Linked DNA regions of Homo sapiens. The protein of the gene in region 1 purifies or fractionates together with the protein of each later gene. This does not show direct contact. Each region holds a gene or a part of one and is shown on either strand. Other genes may lie near its edges. The genes, in order: UBP1, TLE4, PTPN5, WDR4, GRHL1 and MAGEB10.

Region 1 (3,500 bases):
GGTCTGGCATGCGGGGACCGGATGATGATGGTAGTTCGGATTTACTTGAAATGCATTGGGTTGTCACTGAAGTTGTTTAAACAAAGGAGTAGTAATGTGACTAGATTTTTCTTTCACTTTCACAACTCTGTGGAGACAGATGAGAAGGTGGCAAAACGAGGCAGGAGATATCCAGGTGAAAGGTGATGGTATCTTACACGTTTATAGACAGGGTCCCAGTGGGCTCCACTTTTGAGGGAGGAATAGTTCTGACACCTTATTTTCTGTGGAAAGTAACTGGGCAGATGGTGATCTCATTGAAGAGGTAAGTATGGTTGGGGTAAATCAACCAAGAGTTTGATTTTGGATATGTAGAAATGTCAAGTAGGCAGTTGACTATTACCAGTCTGGGGCTCAGAGAAGAGGCCTGGGCTTGAGATGTAAATTTGGAAACCTTCAGCATATCAGCAGTGACTCAAAGCTGTAGAAGTTGTTAAGGTCATTTAGGGAGAGAATATGAAAAGAGCCAGGACCAGGCTTAGGTGGCTCCAACATTAAAGAGGAGGGATTCCTAAATGTAAAATTATTTGAGAAGAGATCATACATTCATAGACTGTTTTAAAAGTCAGGTGAGCTAAGATCCAAATCCGGTCTTAGCACAAAAGCTGCCCCTAGAAGAGGGAGATGTCATGTGTGTCAGGTGTCCCCAGACTACTGAAATACTGATTTTATTTTGCGCCTCACATGTTGCGTATGCCATCAGGTTACCTGCAAGGCTGAGTTTTAACTCTGAACTGGTTCACTCTTTCAGAAACATCTTTAGCCTAGTACCCTTCTGCTCAGTCTTTTGTTTTCACAGCAGTACAGTTTTTACCTTGCATAACTGACATTGTCTGAAAAAGAAGACATATACTATAATTGCATAGTTTTGTTTTGTGAAACCAGCAGACATTTTTTGGTATTAGAAATCATAGGATCTCCCCTCTAATCTCAATTTACTGTTTTGTTTTTTTTTTTAAACTTTGTCGTCATGAGAAAAATCATTTTTTTATGAATGCCTATATTGCTTCTCACTATTTACTGAGAAACACTAGGCAAAAGGAATGATACAGTTTTAAAATGTTTGAAATCTCTGTGAGTAGCTCAGAAATTTTTCTGGAAAAGGTAGATGTACACATTTGCATTTACTCCCTCAGGTCCTCTGCCCTGACACAGTATATTTCACCTGTTCTCCTTCTAGCTCTTGCTCCCCTTATGGACAGCACTATTATTGTGTGTCTTGATAGATGTCCCCCTACCCCCAGAACTGGCAGACAGTGTTGGAATGCGGGCGTTGATAGTGGGCCAGGCTTCGCAGAATGTCTAAAAAGGGAATGTGTACATGAAGTTTTTTGGGGGAAGAGGAGCTAGAGCAAGTTAATCTGCTTGTTTCTCTAGAATCATTTAAAGGTAACCTCTGAATTGGGAAGGGAGGTTGTAGTTGGCAGGGAGTTTTCCATTTAATAGGCTTAATTTCCTAAGCCTGACTGAAGAAATACTGTCTTTCCTTTTTCTGCAGCTGAAAGTAGTGATGGCATCCACATAATTTTGAAGTGATGTCTTATATAGACTGAACTGTATTCAGTACCAAATAGTCACGCTTAAAAGTGTGTGAAGACTGAATCCAAGAAGTCTTGGGATTGGATTTTACCATATGAAATGTTTCATATTGAAAACACAAGATGACCTTTCTAATGAGCTGTATGAGAGGTGAATCTCCTCACTGTCACTGCCATAGCCAAGCATCCTCATGAGAGTGAGCACATCGGCACAGCATGCATCCAGCTCTGGAGGCCACGGTGCAGGCATAGCTGCCTGCTGCTCTGGCAGAGGCCAGTAAATACAGTTCCTAGAAGCAGCCTTTGCTGTCTTTTTACACTGTATGCGGTTTGGAAATGAATGTAGAAACTTACTGTGGGCATTTACCTTTCTGTGCCAGTTTGGCTTTTATTGCCTGAACCTTATGCTGACCTGGAGAGGAGATGGGGGACAGTGCTGTTGTGGGGCCAGCAGTGAATCTGTATGCGGAGAGTTGTGTTGTGCTGATGTGGCCGTTGGTGGTCAGGTAAGAGGCTCGGCACCTTCTTGGAAGAAATCATGTCTGAGGGTGTACGTTTGATATGATCATGCCAGATTGGAGAAGATCCAAGCCAGGAAGATGGGCTTGAAGCAAACTGCATTATCAGGAGTACCTTGGTGAGAGGATCAGTGTAAATCCTAATAGGTACAAAGACTTTTGTGTTTTGGCTTTGTCACAGATTTATTGAAAAACTTTTTTGCTTCTGCTTCCATTTTTAGCATTTTAGTTTCTGGTTTTCATTTTTGGAGATTCCTTGCCTTTTAAACTCGTGGTTTTTCTCTCATTTTCTTCCCTCTCTCCCTCCATCTCTGACCACCCCCACCCTAACCCCCCACCCCCACCATCCTATTAAACATTTTTAAAGCCCTACCCCAGACATTGGAAATAGGTGACCCAAGTAGGGGGAGAAAGTATTATTGTTGATAGCTTCTGACTAGGTGTTAAGGGATCTTCATTATGAACAAGATGAATTTTTTTCTGGAAACACTAGATGTTATCAATCAAACACTAAAATGTACCATACAAATCCCTTAAGCCTCTCAAATATTGAGCTTTAGTACAATCATGGATAGACATTCTGGTGATGATTTAGGGGCTTTTTATACACCACATACTAGCTTCTTTCTCTATAAGAGTGCCTCTTTCATAAAACCAAATGCTTGTCTGCTAGCATACTTTTCAAAGGGAATCCACTGTTTTCTCACTTTCCTCCCATATCTCCGTCCTTCATCCAAAACCTTCCCAGAATCCATCAGCAAGCATGTTTGAGGCCTGTGGTGTAGGGGACTGAATTTTTTTTTTAACTTCTATTCCATTTTAATTGTAGGATATCTTTGTCCATATACCCAGGTGTCCTGATTTGAATGTACTATTTGATCCTCATTGTGTTCAGGCAAAAAATAGGAAATGAGTAATTTTGAGTTTGAAATCTCTCCCAGAAGACAAACTACTTCAGTGAGTAAAAGCTTTGACATTTTATGTTTTATTCATAAAGGGGGTTAATTATTTGCTACAAAGAAGCACGATCTATTTTCATCATCGATTTGAAAATATCTGTAACTCCTATAGATCCTATAGGCAGAGAGTTTTCCTTTCTGACTTTTTCCCTTTGCTTTCGTGTGACCACATGTTTTCTGTACCAGTCACTGGGGAAAGAAGTGAGTTTATCTCGTTTGTTTTAAAAGTTTTGCTTGTCTATTTAGCATTCCTTTTTGGGTCTCAAGATTTATGGAACAATAAATGTCATTTAATGCTGTGTGCTTATTTTGAATTCCTCATCAGGTTTTAGAAGCGGGGTAAAAATACTTAGATGCTTATCAGACTTGAAATTATACTGAGTGGCATTGAACGTGAGTTTGTCCCAGTGAAACAGGCTAAATAAATTTTGGCACCAGCAAATTTG
Region 2 (2,709 bases), on another chromosome or scaffold:
TCTCTACAAAAAAAGTTTGAAAATTAGGTGTGATTGGACACATCAGTGTCGTAGTCCCAGCATCTCAGGAGACTGAGGTGGAAGGATTGCTTGAGCTCAGAAGGTCGAGGCTACAGTGAGCCATGGTCACACCACTGCACTGCAGCCTGAGTGACTGAGGGAGACCCTGTCTTATTAAAAAAAAAAAAAAAAAAAAAAAAAAAAAAAAGCAGCAGTACTGTCCATGACCACCTTTCACCTTTCCTTGACTGGGCTTTCTGTTTGGTCAAGGAGCACATTACATTTGCATTTGCTCTAAGTCCTCCATACTCATGGGATTTTCTTTCAGTATTTAACATTTTTGATTATATGTTTCTTTCCTAGTCCAAAGAATCCTCATCGGTGCTTAGCTGTGACATCTCCGTGGACGACAAATACATTGTCACTGGCTCTGGGGATAAGAAGGCCACAGTTTATGAAGTTATTTATTAAAGACAAATCTTCATGCAGACTGGACTTCTCCTCCTGGTAGCACTTTGCTCTGTCATCCTTTTTGTTCACCCCCATCCCCGCATCTAAAACCAAGGATTTCAGATACTCATTGCAGTTGTGGAGTTTAATCCCCTTTCTTAACCTCACTTCCCACTTGCTATTGAATTGTGAATAGTCATTAAAAACCTGTGATACCAAATCTTCAGCTGTCTACTTGGAAGAACATGGAATAAGCATACTTAACAGTGAAAAGAATCTTTAATTATGTATTATATCTGTAATATATTTATTTTGTTTAAAGAAGGCTTTCTAACAATGACTGACTAAATAAAGCTGTCTGCTCCTGCATTGATAATGAAGGTGCGTTGTATTTGATACCCCTCCCCCCCTTTTTTTGGCAAAGGAGGGGAAAGGAAGGTTTAAAATAATTGATTTAAAATGTCACTAAGTGTAGACTGATGACTGTATAGAGATGTGAAATGTATAATTACACATGGAAGCAATATGTTGCTGTGTTGTTATTAGGTTTTTTTTGTTTTTGTTTTCTACATCTTTTAAAGACTTTTGGAAATTTGGCTGAACAATTAGAACACAACAGGCCAACTCATACTCATTTGGATCTATTTAGACAACGTTAACCAATATATCTATAGCTTTAGATTATATTCGATAAAAGTAATTGGACTTTTTTTCTTTTTTTGACTCGTTGACAAGTGTCTTTGTAATATGTTTTTAGTTCCCTTTTTTTGTTGTATTATAGGCAGATGAACAAATTAAATTTGGCCTCAAAGAGAGAACTTACTCCCTTCTGGATATTTTTGCCACATTTCTTTGCAAAAGGAGATATATATATCTTTAGTCAGTTTTGTTGTTATGAGAAATTATGGGTTATTTTGTGGCATGCTCTTTGGGAGCTGCACAGTTATGGGGAGGACTCCCACTGCTGTGCAAGTTAAGTCTTTTACAAAACAAGGACAGCAGAGGAGGGTTTGCAGAGACCTCCCTCTGAAAAACACAAAGAATGGACTCTCTCCTGGGATGAGGACTTGCTTTCTTTACCTCCGGTTCTTTCCATGTCTTAGTTGGATGTCCCTGAAATGGACACAGGCTGTGCCATTGTGCCAGAAACATTGTGTTATCTTTTATGTTGTTGTTGTTGCTGTTAAACTATAATATGTGACTTCTTTTTTTATTATTTTTTGTTTGAATGCTTTAAAAATCTTTTAAGTCTGTGGATCTGCTGATGTACAGTGCCTTTGCTGCTATGGATCAAAATCAAAAGAACCGTGTAGATATACTTTATTGTATAAGTAGAAAATTACTTAATTTCATACTAGAAATGGATGGATGCTGCAAGTTGAAATGGACTGTCCATTGACGTTCCTAATGTGGTAGCAGAAAAAAAAAAATGGTGTCTTAAGTGCTTAGTGTTTGATGTCATTAACAGTTTCGTAAAACTCTACAGTGTAGAAAGATTTTGATACTAAACTGTGCGTTGTACATAGTTCTAATGCATTGTATTGACCACCAGTACTTCTATAATGGTAGATTGTTTGTGAATTCAGACTTTTAAGCATTAAACATAAATAACTTCTAGTATGCTTATTTTTCTAATTCTTTGTCTTGATGACATTAGTTTATTTTTTATCTTTGGCTGTGCCACTCCTATATATTAAAAATGCCTAGTTTTTTCAAGGGAGATTGTTGTTAAAGTAAAGTGGTTTTTTTTGTTGTTAAAGTAATGTGGGTTTTTTTCACTGTTGCTGTTTTTGTTTTGGTTTTGTCTTTACTTGAGAGGAGCTAGAAAAGGTAGGTGATAGAAGTTAACAGTGACCAGTTGGTGCTAAATATTTATTGAGTACCTCTTTGATTTATAAAAATACTGCTTACCAAAAGGTTATCATGTCCCTCAAACCCTTGATGCTTTAGAGCTATGCTGTTCAATATGGTTACCCTAGGCATTTGTGGCTCTTTAAATTTATTAAAGTTAAATAAAACTAGAAATCTAATTTACCAGTCACACAAACTACATTTCAAGTGTCAAGTAGCCACATGTGGCTAATGGCTACCGTATTGGACTAGACACATCAACACGGGCTTTAAGTTAGCCAATGTAAACCATTGCCAGCCATGTGGATTTGGGAAGCATTTCTAGCATAACACACTGAGGTCTTTACACCAGGCTTCTTGGGCTGCTACTGGTTGGGTGTATGAAGATTCAGTATAAAGAGGAGTTTA
Region 3 (2,685 bases), on another chromosome or scaffold:
TTGCCCTTGTGTATCTCTCCGCTGGCCCTGAAGAGAGTGTAGAGAGTTGTGGGAAGGGAACAGGATTGTATGGCAGCCTGATCTGGGCCCCTGCAGAAATGCACCGAGTATTGGCCGGAGGAGCAGGTGGCGTACGACGGTGTTGAGATCACTGTGCAGAAAGTCATTCACACGGAGGATTACCGGCTGCGACTCATCTCCCTCAAGGTGAGGCCTGGGGCAGGGCTGGGTGAAGCTGAGGATGAGTGTAGGGGCTTAACTGGGGGCTCCACAGAGAACAGGTCCCCCAAGTCCACTGTAACTGACATAAAAGCCAGTGTCACTCCCAGATTTTCTGATAATTACGGATGAGTGAGAGGTGAATGGACTTGGGAGCCAGAGGTAGAATCAAACCCCTTGCATTTCCCAGTCCTCAGTTACATTTCATGCTGTTGGGCTCTCTCTGTCTCTCTACTCTGTCATTCATAATGCATTCTAGCTATGCTTCAAATGTACCCAAGGCCAGGACTGTCTGGATGAGGGGACTTCAGCAGCCTCCAGCACTGTGCTTATAATTGAGGGTTCATCATGACTTTGAGATCCTCCTTAGAAACATCTCTTCACCTGGGATCCTGGGCTTCTGGCCTGTAGTGCCCAATCTGTCCACAAGAGGGCAGGCACTCTTTGCTGCTTTGGGGTTGTACAGGGGGCTGTGGTTACAGAAAACAGCAAGAAAAAGGAAGACACACAAAATATGAGCAATACAAAACAGCCCAGAAGAGTGGGAGAAGGTATCCTCCCACCCTGAAGTTGTGCTTCCTCCAGGATCAGCATAATAGAGGAGACTGTTCCTTTGAAATCGGGATTAGTGGATTCTGTTTGTGAGAAATAAGACCCATGTTTAGGGAAGGCTGTAATTGTAATAACCCCAAAGGCTGGAAGAGGTGAACCAGGCATCAGGAAGCTGATGCCCTATCCAGGAGCAGCCAAGGAAGTTCATTGATGCTGACAGCCACAGGGGTTACTGAGCACAAGACCGGAGACTTGGCCCTCTGAGCTGTTCCCTCTCCCACTGAATAGGGGCCAGGTAGGGTGTCGAGAGCATCTCAGCCCCCAAGAGCAGTGCCCCCACAAGCAGCTCTAAGATCCAGGTCTTGTTGGAGGGCATGAAGGGCCAGGAAGTGAAAAGCAGAAGTAGTGGTCACTGTCACAGCCAGGTAACTCAGGACTTGAGAAAATGGCTTCCTGAGTAGAAATTCCCCAGAAAGACAGGCTGAGATGAGGCAGGGCTGCTCACCTTCTCAATGCCATGGAGATGATGAGGGAAGAACCAGGGCATCTTGGAGTTTGAGGGAATTTACTTTTGTCCATAAGACATTACGAGCACCTGGCCTGAGCTTGGTTCTGGGTTGGATACTGTGAACACAGAGCTTCCCAAAGCTTGGACTCTTTCCTTGAGAAGCATTGTATAAGATGGTAAGTACTGAGCTAGAGATAGGTATATAGAATATAGGATATGTATATCATATGATGTTATATTGGATGAATATAGGATATGTATATCATATATGTATGTATATATGATATACATATCCTATTATACCTATATATAAAATATATATAATATAAATATATAATATATAAAATATATATAAAATATAAATATATATATAGGTGTGTGTGTATATATATATGTATAAAAGAAGGACACTCTGCCAGCTGATGTGCTCAGGGAGGGCTTCCTGTACATGGTGGTGCTGAATGGGGTCTTGAAGGATAAGTAAGAGTTGACCAGGGGCAAACAAGTCAGGAGAACATTCCCAGTGAGAAAATAATAAAAGTAAGGACATGGAAGATGGAACACTTGTGTGCATGTATGTGTGCACATGTGTTTGTGTGTGCTGCTGAGATTTTACCTACAAACCTTTTGGAGTGTGGGAGCATTGAGTACAAGTACGCAGGGGCAGGAGGTGTGTCTGGAAGGGCAGGCCCTGTAGCAGTTGTCTTCCTAGCCAGGTGAAGGACTGAGGAGAGTGGGTCTTATTCTGAGAGCAGTGAGAGACATTGAAGGATGTTGTGGTCTGCTCAGGCTGCTATAACAAAATACCATAGACCAGGTAGCTTGTAAGCAACAGGTTTATTTTTCACAGTTCTGGAGACTGGGAAGTCCAAGATCAAGGCACCGTGACCCTGGTGAGGACCCACTTCCAGGGTCATGTCCTCACGTGGCAGAAGGAGTGAAAGCTCCTTTTGTAAGAGCACTGATCCCATTCGTGAGGGCTCCGTTCTCATGACTTCATCACCTCGCAAAGGCCCTCCCTTCAAATACCACCATGTTGGGATTTGGTTTCAACATGTGAACTTAAGGGGACACACACATTCAGTCCAAAGCCACAGGTTTTCAGCAGGAGAGCAGCATGTCCAGATGTGTGTTGTACACAGACTATTTTGACTCTGTGGATCTGAGACAGTTGGGGATGAGGCAGAAATCTCCCACACTCGAGCAATGATAAAGGTCAAGGTGGCAGTGAAGCGGGGAGTGTGAAGAGGTGGTAAAACTTGCAGCACTAATTGCAGCACTAAGATAGAGGCGAGTCACGCAGGCGCAGGCGAGGCACAGCAAGAGGCGAAGAAGAGTCCCGGGGCTGGGTTATGTGACAAAGGGATGACTGGGGGACCATTTGTTAAGATAAGGAACCCTGGAGA
Region 4 (3,407 bases), on another chromosome or scaffold:
GTGTGTCCCCATCCAGAAGGCGGGGCAGGGCAGGAGGTGGGTGACGCACAGCAGAAGAAGGAGCCCCCCATGGGAGTCAGGCTAACGAGAGCCACTTAGGAACCGGGGGCTCAGGGTCTGAGCACCTGCCTTCAGAGTTGGGCGTTGAAGGTCCCCAGGGCAGGGCTGGCAGCTGGTGGCTCCCAGAGGGAGCTGGTGCTGTGCTGCCTCATGCCTGGTCCATGGTGTTGAGGGAATTGATCCCACTGCAGTGGGCGTCAGTAAGTGCAGGGCCTCACTGGGAGGTTTAGTGGGGGTCTAGCCAGAGGCCCCGGGGGTCTTCAGGAGGCTGAGCAGGGGCAGGATGGTCACTGTCCTGACAGGAACACTCAGCTGAGGGGAGGGAATCTAGCCAGCAACTCCCGTGGCTGCGGCTGCAGGAAGGAGAGCAGCCAGGCTGAGGGAGGAGCTGGACGAACATTTTCTACCCTGCCTTCTGGGGACACGACACACTGTAGTTCTGGGTGCGTCGTTGTGCCAGCACCTTGCAGTCTTGGAGGTGATGGTGTCTGCAGGATGGATTAGCCCAGCATGGAATCCAGGTGCCTCATTCACGACAAGAAGTTGCTGCTCTGAAGTCTTGCAAAGCTAAACCCCACTGCAGTGAGCACTGAGGTTCCTTGGAGCTCTGGAGGGATTCACACTGAGGTCGGAGGAGTTTCCGCTGATTGGGGCCCAGCCGCCTTCTGCCAGGCTCCCCGAGTGGCGGCACGCTGGCTCTGCCTCTGAGGCTTCTCTCCCTCCTGCTTTGCTTAGGATGTTGAGGGTTGAGACGGGCAGGGTTGGGCCCCCCAGCGTGGTTGGGATCTGCTTTAGGAACACTTCAGAGTGGGCCTGTCACTGGCTGTGTCAGGGACTGCAGGCGGCAGTGCTCATGGCCGGGCATCTGCAGTGCTCATGGCCCCCGTGCTCTAGGCCACGGACAGCATAGACCTGTTGAGTGTCACCTTGCACAACAGTCTCAGGCCAAAGCCTGGGCTCGCTCTCCTGAGATGTTCCATAGATAGAGCAGCCTGTTCCCGGCGCAGACTTGGGGGCCTGCGTTGGGAGAGGGACCGGGGAGGGCTGCTGCTAGAGTGTCCCACAAGCAGCAGAGTCGCTGGAGGGGCGGGGAGGCTGCGCCACCTGCTGGATGGGCAGGCTTCAGGCAGTCGCTGGTGCGCGGGTTACCGGCTGGGCCTGTGGTTTCCTGGCCAGGCTGAGGCTGTCTCCGTGTGCCTGTGGTCAGTCATTGCCCCCAATCCTTGGCACTTAGATAAAGTAGATGAAATCCGTGTCCATTCCCTGTGGCGGCAGAACATGCTATCCCACACTCGATGCCTTAAGGCACCCCACCCTTACTGTCTCACTGTTGCTGTGGGTCAGGGGTCCGGACTCAGCTGAGCTGTGTCTCTGCAGGTGGCCATCTCAGCTTCACCAGGCAGGGCCCGACTTCACTCAGTCTGGGTTGTCGGCAGGACAGGGGGCCTCTCTGGCTGTTGGCCAGAGGCTGCTGCTCCTGGTCCCCTGCCACCTGGGCCCCTCCACAGGGCGGCTCATGGTGCAGTAGTGGCTTTCTCCGGGCGTGCAAGCAGAGAGTGCTGGCGGGGTGGAGGCCCAGCCTTGGTGCCCTGGTTTCCATTACATTCTTTCATCTTTGCCCCGTTCTGTTAGTAGCCAGTCCTCAGGTCCAGCCAGGGTGTGGGTCCCAGGAGGTGGGCACCGTGGGGAGCCGTCCCAGAAGGCGCCCCCCACGGTCCACCGAGGACTCTGGGAGTCACGAGGTAACTCCCTGCTGCAGGGGGCCCGCTGTGGTGGCCGAGTCCCATGTTCCTGCCCCACCTGGCACCTGTCCTTGTTCCCCCATCACAGGCTCTGCCGGCGCAGACGCCAGCTTCAGCAGTCTCTACAAGGCCACGTTCGACAACGTGACCTCCTACCTGAAGAAGAAAGAGGAGAGACTGCAGCAGCAGCTAGAGAAGAAGCAGCGGCGCCGGAGTCCCCCGCCTGGGCCCGACGGGCATGCCAAGAAGATGAGACCGGGGGAGGCGACGCTAAGTTGCTGATCGTGGCGGTCAGTGGTGTCTCTCACCTCAAATTAGGAAAAGCTTTTTAACTTGTTCCCCTGCATCCTGGCATGTCCCTTCAAGAAGGAAAAGGTGACATCAGTTGTGACCAGCTCAGAGGATGGGGCTGTCCCCTGGGCTCTAGAAAGAACATTCTGTGTCACCAGCACAGGCTCTTGCTGGGTGCCTGTGCCCCCTTTCTGGTTGAAGGGAAGCCAGACCAGTGGAGTGGAAGCTCTTGAAGCACTTTCTTTTCATGTCGGAGGCTGCGTGTGAGCCGGTGGTGGCGGCAGCTGTCTGTGTTTCTCCTGTTCTCATACCGCCCTTCGTGTCCGCTGCATCTTCCTCTAGGAGCATCTGTGGGCTGACGTTTCTGGCATGGTGGATGTTTTCATGTTGTTCCGCCGTCTCAGCATCCAGGTGACGTGCTGTCCCGCAGTAGCTGCTCGCCACACAGGCTGTTGAAACTCAGCACGAATGCTTGAGCCTGCCCCAGCCCCAGCCGTAGCCCTTGTGCTCAGGAGCTGCTCCTGGAGAGTGGCTCCCTTGTGGGAAGTGAGAAACACGTTTCGGAGTCGCAGGGAGCTCTGTCTGGCATCGGTGGCACAGATGGTGAACTTGTTTCAGGAAGTGTGAGCACGGGCCTGGCTGGCACCCGGTTTACAGGGAGGTGATTGAGGACGTCGTTATGATTTGATTTGACCTTGGCACACACTGCAGAGCCACAGGGATGTTGCTGAATTTCAATCACCGATCAGCAAGGATGAACCTTCTCAACTTCCTAGGAATGTTTAGCAGCAACCGAATATACCAGGCAAAACTCCTTGGTGCCTGCGCTGTGTGTGTGTGAGGTGCGCGGTGTGATTGTGCGCTGTGTGTGTGTGAGGTGCACGCTGCGTGATCGTGTGCTGTGTGAGGTGCGCGCCGCGTGATCGTGCGCTGTGTGTGTGTGTGAGGTGCGTGGTGTGATCGTGCGCTGTGTGTGTGGTGCACGCCGCGTGATCGTGCGCTGTGTGTGTGAGGTGCGCGGTGTGATCGTGCGCTGTGTGTGAGGTGCACGCTGCGTGATCGTGTGCTGTGAGTGAGGTGCGCGCCGCGTGATCGTGTGCTGTGTGAGGTGCGCGCCGCGTGATCGTGTGCTGTGTGAGGTGTGCGCCGCGTGATCGTGCGCTGTGTGTGTGAGGTGCGCGGTGTGATCGTGTGCTGTGAGTGAGGTGCGCGCCGCGTGATCGTGTGCTGTGTGAGGTGCGCGCCGCGTGATCGTGTGCTGTGTGAGGTGCGCGCCGCGTGATCGTGTGCTGTGTGAGGTGCGCGCCGTGTGAT
Region 5 (3,043 bases), on another chromosome or scaffold:
CAGTGGCTAGCATAAGAATTTTTTGGCTTAGTTTTAAAACAAATTCTAATGGGAAATTTCTAGATGGTTCTAGTGGAAAGAGTTGGACTTAATAGTAGTTAATTTATTTTTGTTTATTTTCTTGTTTTTGTATTCTTTATTTTTTGTTTGATAATAGTAGTTCATTTAAACTTTGAGGCTCACTTGCTGGAGTGTGTAATTTGTCAGGGGGCTGTGACTTCACATCATGTAAGTTAGTGTTATTGATGTGCTTTTGCTTTATTCATTTAGAGATGGTTTCACTCTATCGCCCAGGCTGGAGTACAGTGGTGCAATCAGAGCTCACTGTAGCCTTGAACTCCTGGGCTCAGGCCATCCTTTCACCTCAGCTTCCCAAGTAGCAGGGACTACAGGCATGTACCACCATGTCCAGCTAGTTTTTAAAATTTTTCTGTAGAAATGGGATCTTGCTATGTTATCCAGGCTGGTCTCAAACTCTTGGGCTCAAGTGATTCTCCTGCCTCAGCGTCCCAAAGTGCTGGCATCACAGGTATGAGCCAAGTACCATTTACCAAGTGACAACTATGAAATACATGCTGGAAATAATAATCATAAATAAGCCAGTATATTTCATTTTCCAAATGCTATGATATAAATATATCACCTGATTTCCTCCTAACTCAATTCTCTCAGCAATCCTATAAGATGGGTACTATTATTATCCCCATTTTATAGATGAGGAAGTTGAGGCTTAAGGAGATTTAAATAATTTGCCTCACATGCTGCAACTAGTAAGTGGGAGAGCTAACAGGTCAATCTAGGTCTGACTCCAGGACCAAGTGGCAGTGAAGTTGGTTGGTCTTGTCCCCCCCCATCCAGGATCCTGGTGAACATGGACGACAACATTGTGAAGCATTACTCCAATGAGGACACCTTCCAGCTGCAGATTGAAGAAGCCGGGGGGTCTTACAAGCTCACCCTGACGGAGATCTAAAGGCCTGCGGGCCACAGCTCCCCAGGAGTTCAGTGCAGGTGTTTCTAGATCTTACGGTTTGGCAACTGCAGGTAACCCCAGTCAGCCATGTCGCCAGCACAGGTCTATGTCGAGGGAATGGGTTCCTTGCAGGTTGGAGGCGGGGCTGCATCTGGCTTGGTGGTAGCATTTAATCTATTGCATTGGTGTTTTTCAGATGAAAGAGAAATCCATATACCATTATGTTTGAATTTCCTGATATATACAGGATTTAAAGTGAAAACTTTATTCCAAGAGTTAACAGAGTCTCTGGGAAGCTTTAGGACATCTGCTACGTTATTTATCAAAATATTGGGATCTCTGCCTTGTGCCTACAGTGTCGTGGGCCTGCTCGCTAGCAGAAGTCAGAAAAGGCGATAGGCTTGGCTTTAAGGATTTCGTGCCCTTGCCTGAATTCAGTACAACTCCACTGCCTCACGTTAGCGGGAGCGCACCTGAAGAGTACGGGGGGAGCCCTCTCTCCCTTACCCTCTCACTCTCCACCAGATGTTTACTAAACAGGGCATGTTACTGAAATCTTCCTTTGCGACTTTCTCGGACATATCAACTGCCTTTCTCATGAAGAATTTTAATGGGTTACAGTATGAAATCAGTTAAGATAAAGCTGCATTGTATATAAGTGCAATATATTTTTGAAGGTCTGTAAATGTGTACATACATGTCTTATATAAATATATAATATATAAATATGGTGTCTGTGTACATATAGTGAAGATATGCAGTAAGAGCTACCTTAAAGACTTTCCCTAGACAAAGGTTAAGTTATTTTTTGATCGTGTATACCAAGCAGATAGAATACTGTGCTTAGTGGAACCCGCTAAAAACCTTTTTCTCTGTTTTTCCAAACACAGGCATTCTGTAGCATAGCAAAACCTTCTCAAATGACAGAGATTCTGTTTGCTGTTGAGAATGTTGTTATTTGGATTTCTGCACTGTTTAACAAATGAAGTAAAAGAAAAACACTACTGCAATCACGTCTTTTGTTATGCTAGTATCAGTCAGATGCACTTAGAGTGAAGAAACACTGTAATTACAGCACACAGATTGCAAGTATTGCGTACCAAGTGATACAACTCGAAATGCAGTTCTCATCTTCCTGTTTTGAGAAATGATTATTTTATCACGCATCAGAGCCTTCGTGCTTTGATTATCTTGTATGTTAACAATTCTAGAAAACATTCATGAATTCACAAAAATATGTTACTATGGCAGGGGAACATTTTGTACACATTTAAGTATATAAAAATACTAAAATATGTAATTTTATAACAAAGTCACGGGTATCTTTAGGTTCAGGGAACTAGACTAGGTCATTCGTGTAAATGGACTGGTAGTTACAGTCTTAGGTTAAAGTATTCTAATGAAGTATGGGAACTAAATTGCTGGTTTTCTAAGATAAGATATGGGATATGGGTCATATAACTTTTGTATTTTTTATGAAGTTGATTTTGTCTTGCGTGTTATTTTTAATTGTATCATTGAAGATGTATTTTAAACCAAAGGAATTAAATTTTATATGTCTATTTCGTAATATGTCATTTCCTGTTTTTCAATTTGACTTTGCACTGCTCAGTAAAACGTGAGAGCTGAAAAGCATCTCATTGCTAGCACTTTCTGCTTATTTCTTAATGTGTGCGCTTAGGTTGTTTTCTTCATGTTAACTTTTCCTTACTGATGCCTGAAATGATCCACGTAATTGTTAAGTCAGGGATCCCTGAATGATTTTCCAATTCTTACCAAAATTTAACCACTAAAGCTGAAGGTAAATGCTTTCATACCTAAAATCTTAGTATTCTTAGTGTTTAAAAGCCTAACAGAAAATACTTAGTTTAAAAATTTACCAATATTTAAATCATTAGAATCTCTAAAACAGGCGTCCTGAACATATTCCAGGGTAATCCAGGGCCTAAATATGATAGACACTAGGATATATTTTTAATGGATACAAGATCAGATTAATGACGTAAACTCCCTGATAGGGCTCCTGGGACATCTGCACTTTTCACAGTAACCCTCGGGCCAAAGTGGAGA
Region 6 (3,500 bases), on another chromosome or scaffold:
CTAAGCGGCATTTTTGGTTGATTTGTGTGCTGTATCATAGAGTGCTGCATATTTTCGGACATCTCTTGCTTTAAAAACAATCACAGAGATTTCAATAGGGCCTGGGGTCAAACTAATAATAGTAACAAACGCTAGTTATTAAATATGCAATAAATAATAGGCACTTTTCCCAGAGTTTTCATACATTACATACAACCCAGAAATCCTACAAGGCAAGGCTTATCAAGGTCACTTCACAAAAAGCCTGAGCCTCATAGAGCTTTGCAATTTTCCTGACTTCACGTGGTTCATTAAGTGTCAAAATTAGAACCATAGTCTGAATTTGTTTAGAACCCACACTGTTGCACTCCTTCCTGCATGAAGCACATGTCTGTCTTTTAATTCATTTCTCTTCTCACTACTGCACTGTGTCTCTAGGCAATAAAAAGAAGGAACCTGGGGCCAGTGTACTAAATCCAGATGTAATAAATAATGGAGAAAATGAGAATTGAACACCATTTGGGGACTGCCCGTGGGCCTCATTTTCGTAGGGTCCATCCACCCCTAGCTCCAGGGTTCTTTGGGAGCTGATTTTGCCCAGGTGCTGGCACCTGGGACCAGATCCAGCACTTCCCAAATTACACTGTTCTTTCCTTGAGTCAGCCCCTGTGAGTCCTTGTGCCCAAATCTGGATCCTTACCTGCTGTCCAGCTCTTCCCTGCTTCCTTCCATGAAGGCTGCACCCTGCTCCCTATGGGAAAGAAAGCCCAGAATAACTTTCCTTCCTTTCTCCTGACTTAGAGCTTTCCAACTCCCTGCAGATGTCCTCTGTTTTGTCACATCACTCACTTGGAACTTCTCTGATAACAGCCCCTTCCATGTAATTGTTTACTTTGGCAGTGAACACTACATACCTGCTCATCTGCTCTGAGTAATTCCACCACACTCAAGATTTTTTCCAAGTCTGCCTGTGAGTCAGGTCAGACTTGGAACAGAATCTAACCTTGAAAGATAACTCTGAAGTTAGAGAGGAGGTGTAGAAAGCAGATGAAGTTAGAAAGAGAGGAGAATGTAATCTGGTGACTTATTTGAGACTAGCACTGAATCCATACACTAGTGAGCTTAAGTGAATGGTGAAAATATCGAAGCCTCTGTCTCAAGTGGTGGATAAGGAAGGACCTAGGAAATAACTGTGTATCAACCATGTCCAGAAATTGGATTCCTATAAATCCTGGTGTACTAGGAGCATGTAGTAGATTTCTATGCTGACATAACAAATGCCATACAGTAAGACACTTAAAATAACATATTGATTAGATCACCCTTCTGTAGGTGAGAAGTATGGGTTGGTTCTGCTGGTTTCTTTGCTTAGGGTTACACAGGCCCAAATCAAGCTGTCAAAGCCTGGCTTCTTATTGGGACACACTGTGAAGAATCCCATTTCAGGCTTATTCAGGTCATTATATGAGGAACCCAGTTCTTTGTGGTTGTAAGAAGAGTGAGGAGTAAGTCTCCTTTCAGGCTATCAGTTGGAGCTGCCATATTTTCTCCAGGCCTGTGTCCAGTCTTTGCATGTGGGCCTCTACTTTTGAGTCAGACTTGGGACATTGAACCTGTCTCACGCTTGGAATTTCTCTAACTTCTGTCTCTGCTGCATATCTCTTCTGCCTCCAGGTGGAGAAACTTCTCTGCTTGTAAGGGCTCATCTAATTAGATTTGGCCCATGTAGGCAATCCAGTGTAATCTCTCTATTTTCAGGTCGGTTTCATAATTTTAATTATATTTGCAAAGTGCCTTTGGCCATGTAACATAACATATTCATGGGTTTCAGGAATGAGGATATGTGAATCTTCGTGGAGCAATTATTCAGTCTACCACAGAGGTAGAATATGTCTCTCTGGCAGACATGCCAGCTTTGATAAGAAAAGAAAAACCATAATTCGCCATCATTCTCCTGATTCTTGTCTGTATCTGCGCCAAGGGAAAATCCTGGTTTTTCATTGCGCCTAAGGGCACCTGTACATGTGCTCAGGTGTACATGTTCATCAGGTGGTGGGTAGCAGGACTCACAAGTTACGTTTTTAACAATACATCAAAAGAAGGAAGAAATTTTTCAGTCTCTTGAGATTATAGAGGTCATTGAAAAGGTCAGTGCAGAAAGGTGTTATTGAGTGCAGCGGGGTGAACCCTCCTTGCTGAGATTTACAGGATCGTTTTGAAAATTAGTGTGATTCTGGATTTGAAATTACCTGTCACATATAGACACTAGAAAATGTTGTTGTTTAGCAAAGATATTTGATATTCTCAGAAACTCCTCCAAGACTTAAGAAGGGTGTTTTCATAACAAATTTATAGTAGTAGCTTTTATTGAGCTTTTACTATTATAATAGTTAATTGGACAGACTGCAAGTGCTCATCCACTTTGTGTCTTGCTTTCTATCCTTGGTTCATATGGAGACTACATTGCCAGTCCACTTGTAGTTTGGAAAGGTCATGTGACTACCCCCCTTGACACTGAAATATGAACAGTAGCATGCTTTTCCCTTTCAGATCAAAGTGTTTGAGAGCCAGTCTGCCACCTCCATGCCTTCTCTTCCATGCTGAGATATGGAGCCACAGTATAGAAGCAGCATGGATCCCTGGGACACCTGACAGCAAAAAATCCCTATTAATTAATATCAAAGTTTATTTGCATAAGAGATAAACCTTTAGTGTGTTAAGCCATTGAGATTTCAGCCTTTTGCCATTACATCTCATACATACTTTATCTGTACAATACACAACTACTAATTCCATTGTTATTATTATTTAAATATTTTAATTACCAAGAAAATAGTGTATGTATTCTTGTTGCCAAAAATTCTAATACAGATAAATCAAAATTTCGCTTCCTTACTATGTCCCTCCAAAATTCAATACCTCCTCATATGTAACCACATTTTTTAAATCCTGCATGTAGTATTTTTAAATGTATTATAGGCTTTCTCTTATATACATGTGCAACAAAAATACACTGTGAGGGTTTTTTTGCTTTTGTTTGCTCCTTTTTCTTCTTAATTTTTATTTACTTATTTATTTCTTTTAGAGACGGTGCCTCGCTCTGTTGCCCAGACTGGAGTGCAGTGGTGTGATCATAACTCAGTATAGCCTAGAACTCCTGAGCTCAAGCAATCCTCCCACCTCAGCCTTTCAAGCAGCTAGGAGTACAGTTGGGAGCCACTGTACCTGGTTACTGTGAGTTTTAAATATACATTGATAACTGTTTACATATTGCTCCACAATATGCCTTAGAATTTTGATATTTCAATAACACATTTCTCTTTACTTTGAGAAGAAAGGATTTACTCAGAATGACAAGGTTCCAGGAAATGTGCCTTAACAAGAAAACCTCAATTAGTGAAGGACATCAGGAAAACTGGGCACTGGAACAATTTCCAGAATCCACGAGAGAGATCATAAGCTAAACAAAGTCCAGAGAACTCAGGGCACGGGGTAGTCAGGGATCTGTATCCAGAGTTCAG

Evidence for each region.
Region 2: the proteins of UBP1 (region 1) and TLE4 purify together in Homo sapiens (affinity purification with mass spectrometry; one large-scale study listed by BioGRID and IntAct). This does not show direct contact.
Region 3: the proteins of UBP1 (region 1) and PTPN5 purify together in Homo sapiens (affinity purification with mass spectrometry; one large-scale study listed by BioGRID and IntAct). This does not show direct contact.
Region 4: the proteins of UBP1 (region 1) and WDR4 fractionate together in Homo sapiens (co-fractionation; one large-scale study listed by BioGRID). This does not show direct contact.
Region 5: the proteins of UBP1 (region 1) and GRHL1 purify together in Homo sapiens (co-immunoprecipitation; one large-scale study listed by IntAct). This does not show direct contact.
Region 6: the proteins of UBP1 (region 1) and MAGEB10 purify together in Homo sapiens (affinity purification with mass spectrometry; one large-scale study listed by BioGRID and IntAct). This does not show direct contact.

Annotation. Positions count from the first base shown.
Region 1 is NC_000003.12:33,388,406-33,391,905, reverse strand, and holds part of UBP1 (upstream-binding protein 1), read left to right. Parts: intron 1-1,537; coding exon 1,538-1,575; 3' UTR 1,576-3,500. UniProt on the Homo sapiens protein: Functions as a transcriptional activator in a promoter context-dependent manner. Modulates the placental expression of CYP11A1. Involved in regulation of the alpha-globin gene in erythroid cells.
Region 2 is NC_000009.12:79,724,674-79,727,382, forward strand, and holds the end of TLE4 (transducin-like enhancer protein 4), read left to right. Parts: intron 1-363; coding exon 364-471; 3' UTR 472-2,209; downstream 2,210-2,709. UniProt on the Homo sapiens protein: Transcriptional corepressor that binds to a number of transcription factors. Inhibits the transcriptional activation mediated by PAX5, and by CTNNB1 and TCF family members in Wnt signaling.
Region 3 is NC_000011.10:18,730,114-18,732,798, reverse strand, and holds part of PTPN5 (tyrosine-protein phosphatase non-receptor type 5), read left to right. Parts: intron 1-96; coding exon 97-207; intron 208-2,685. UniProt on the Homo sapiens protein: May regulate the activity of several effector molecules involved in synaptic plasticity and neuronal cell survival, including MAPKs, Src family kinases and NMDA receptors.
Region 4 is NC_000021.9:42,848,726-42,852,132, reverse strand, and holds the end of WDR4 (tRNA (guanine-N(7)-)-methyltransferase non-catalytic subunit WDR4), read left to right. Parts: intron 1-1,890; coding exon 1,891-2,084; 3' UTR 2,085-2,907; downstream 2,908-3,407. UniProt on the Homo sapiens protein: Non-catalytic component of the METTL1-WDR4 methyltransferase complex required for the formation of N(7)-methylguanine in a subset of RNA species, such as tRNAs, mRNAs and microRNAs (miRNAs).
Region 5 is NC_000002.12:9,999,735-10,002,777, forward strand, and holds the end of GRHL1 (grainyhead-like protein 1 homolog), read left to right. Parts: intron 1-858; coding exon 859-973; 3' UTR 974-2,543; downstream 2,544-3,043. UniProt on the Homo sapiens protein: Transcription factor involved in epithelial development. Binds directly to the consensus DNA sequence 5'-AACCGGTT-3'.
Region 6 is NC_000023.11:27,814,490-27,817,989, forward strand, and holds part of MAGEB10 (melanoma-associated antigen B10), read left to right. Parts: intron 1-3,064; 5' UTR 3,065-3,213; intron 3,214-3,500.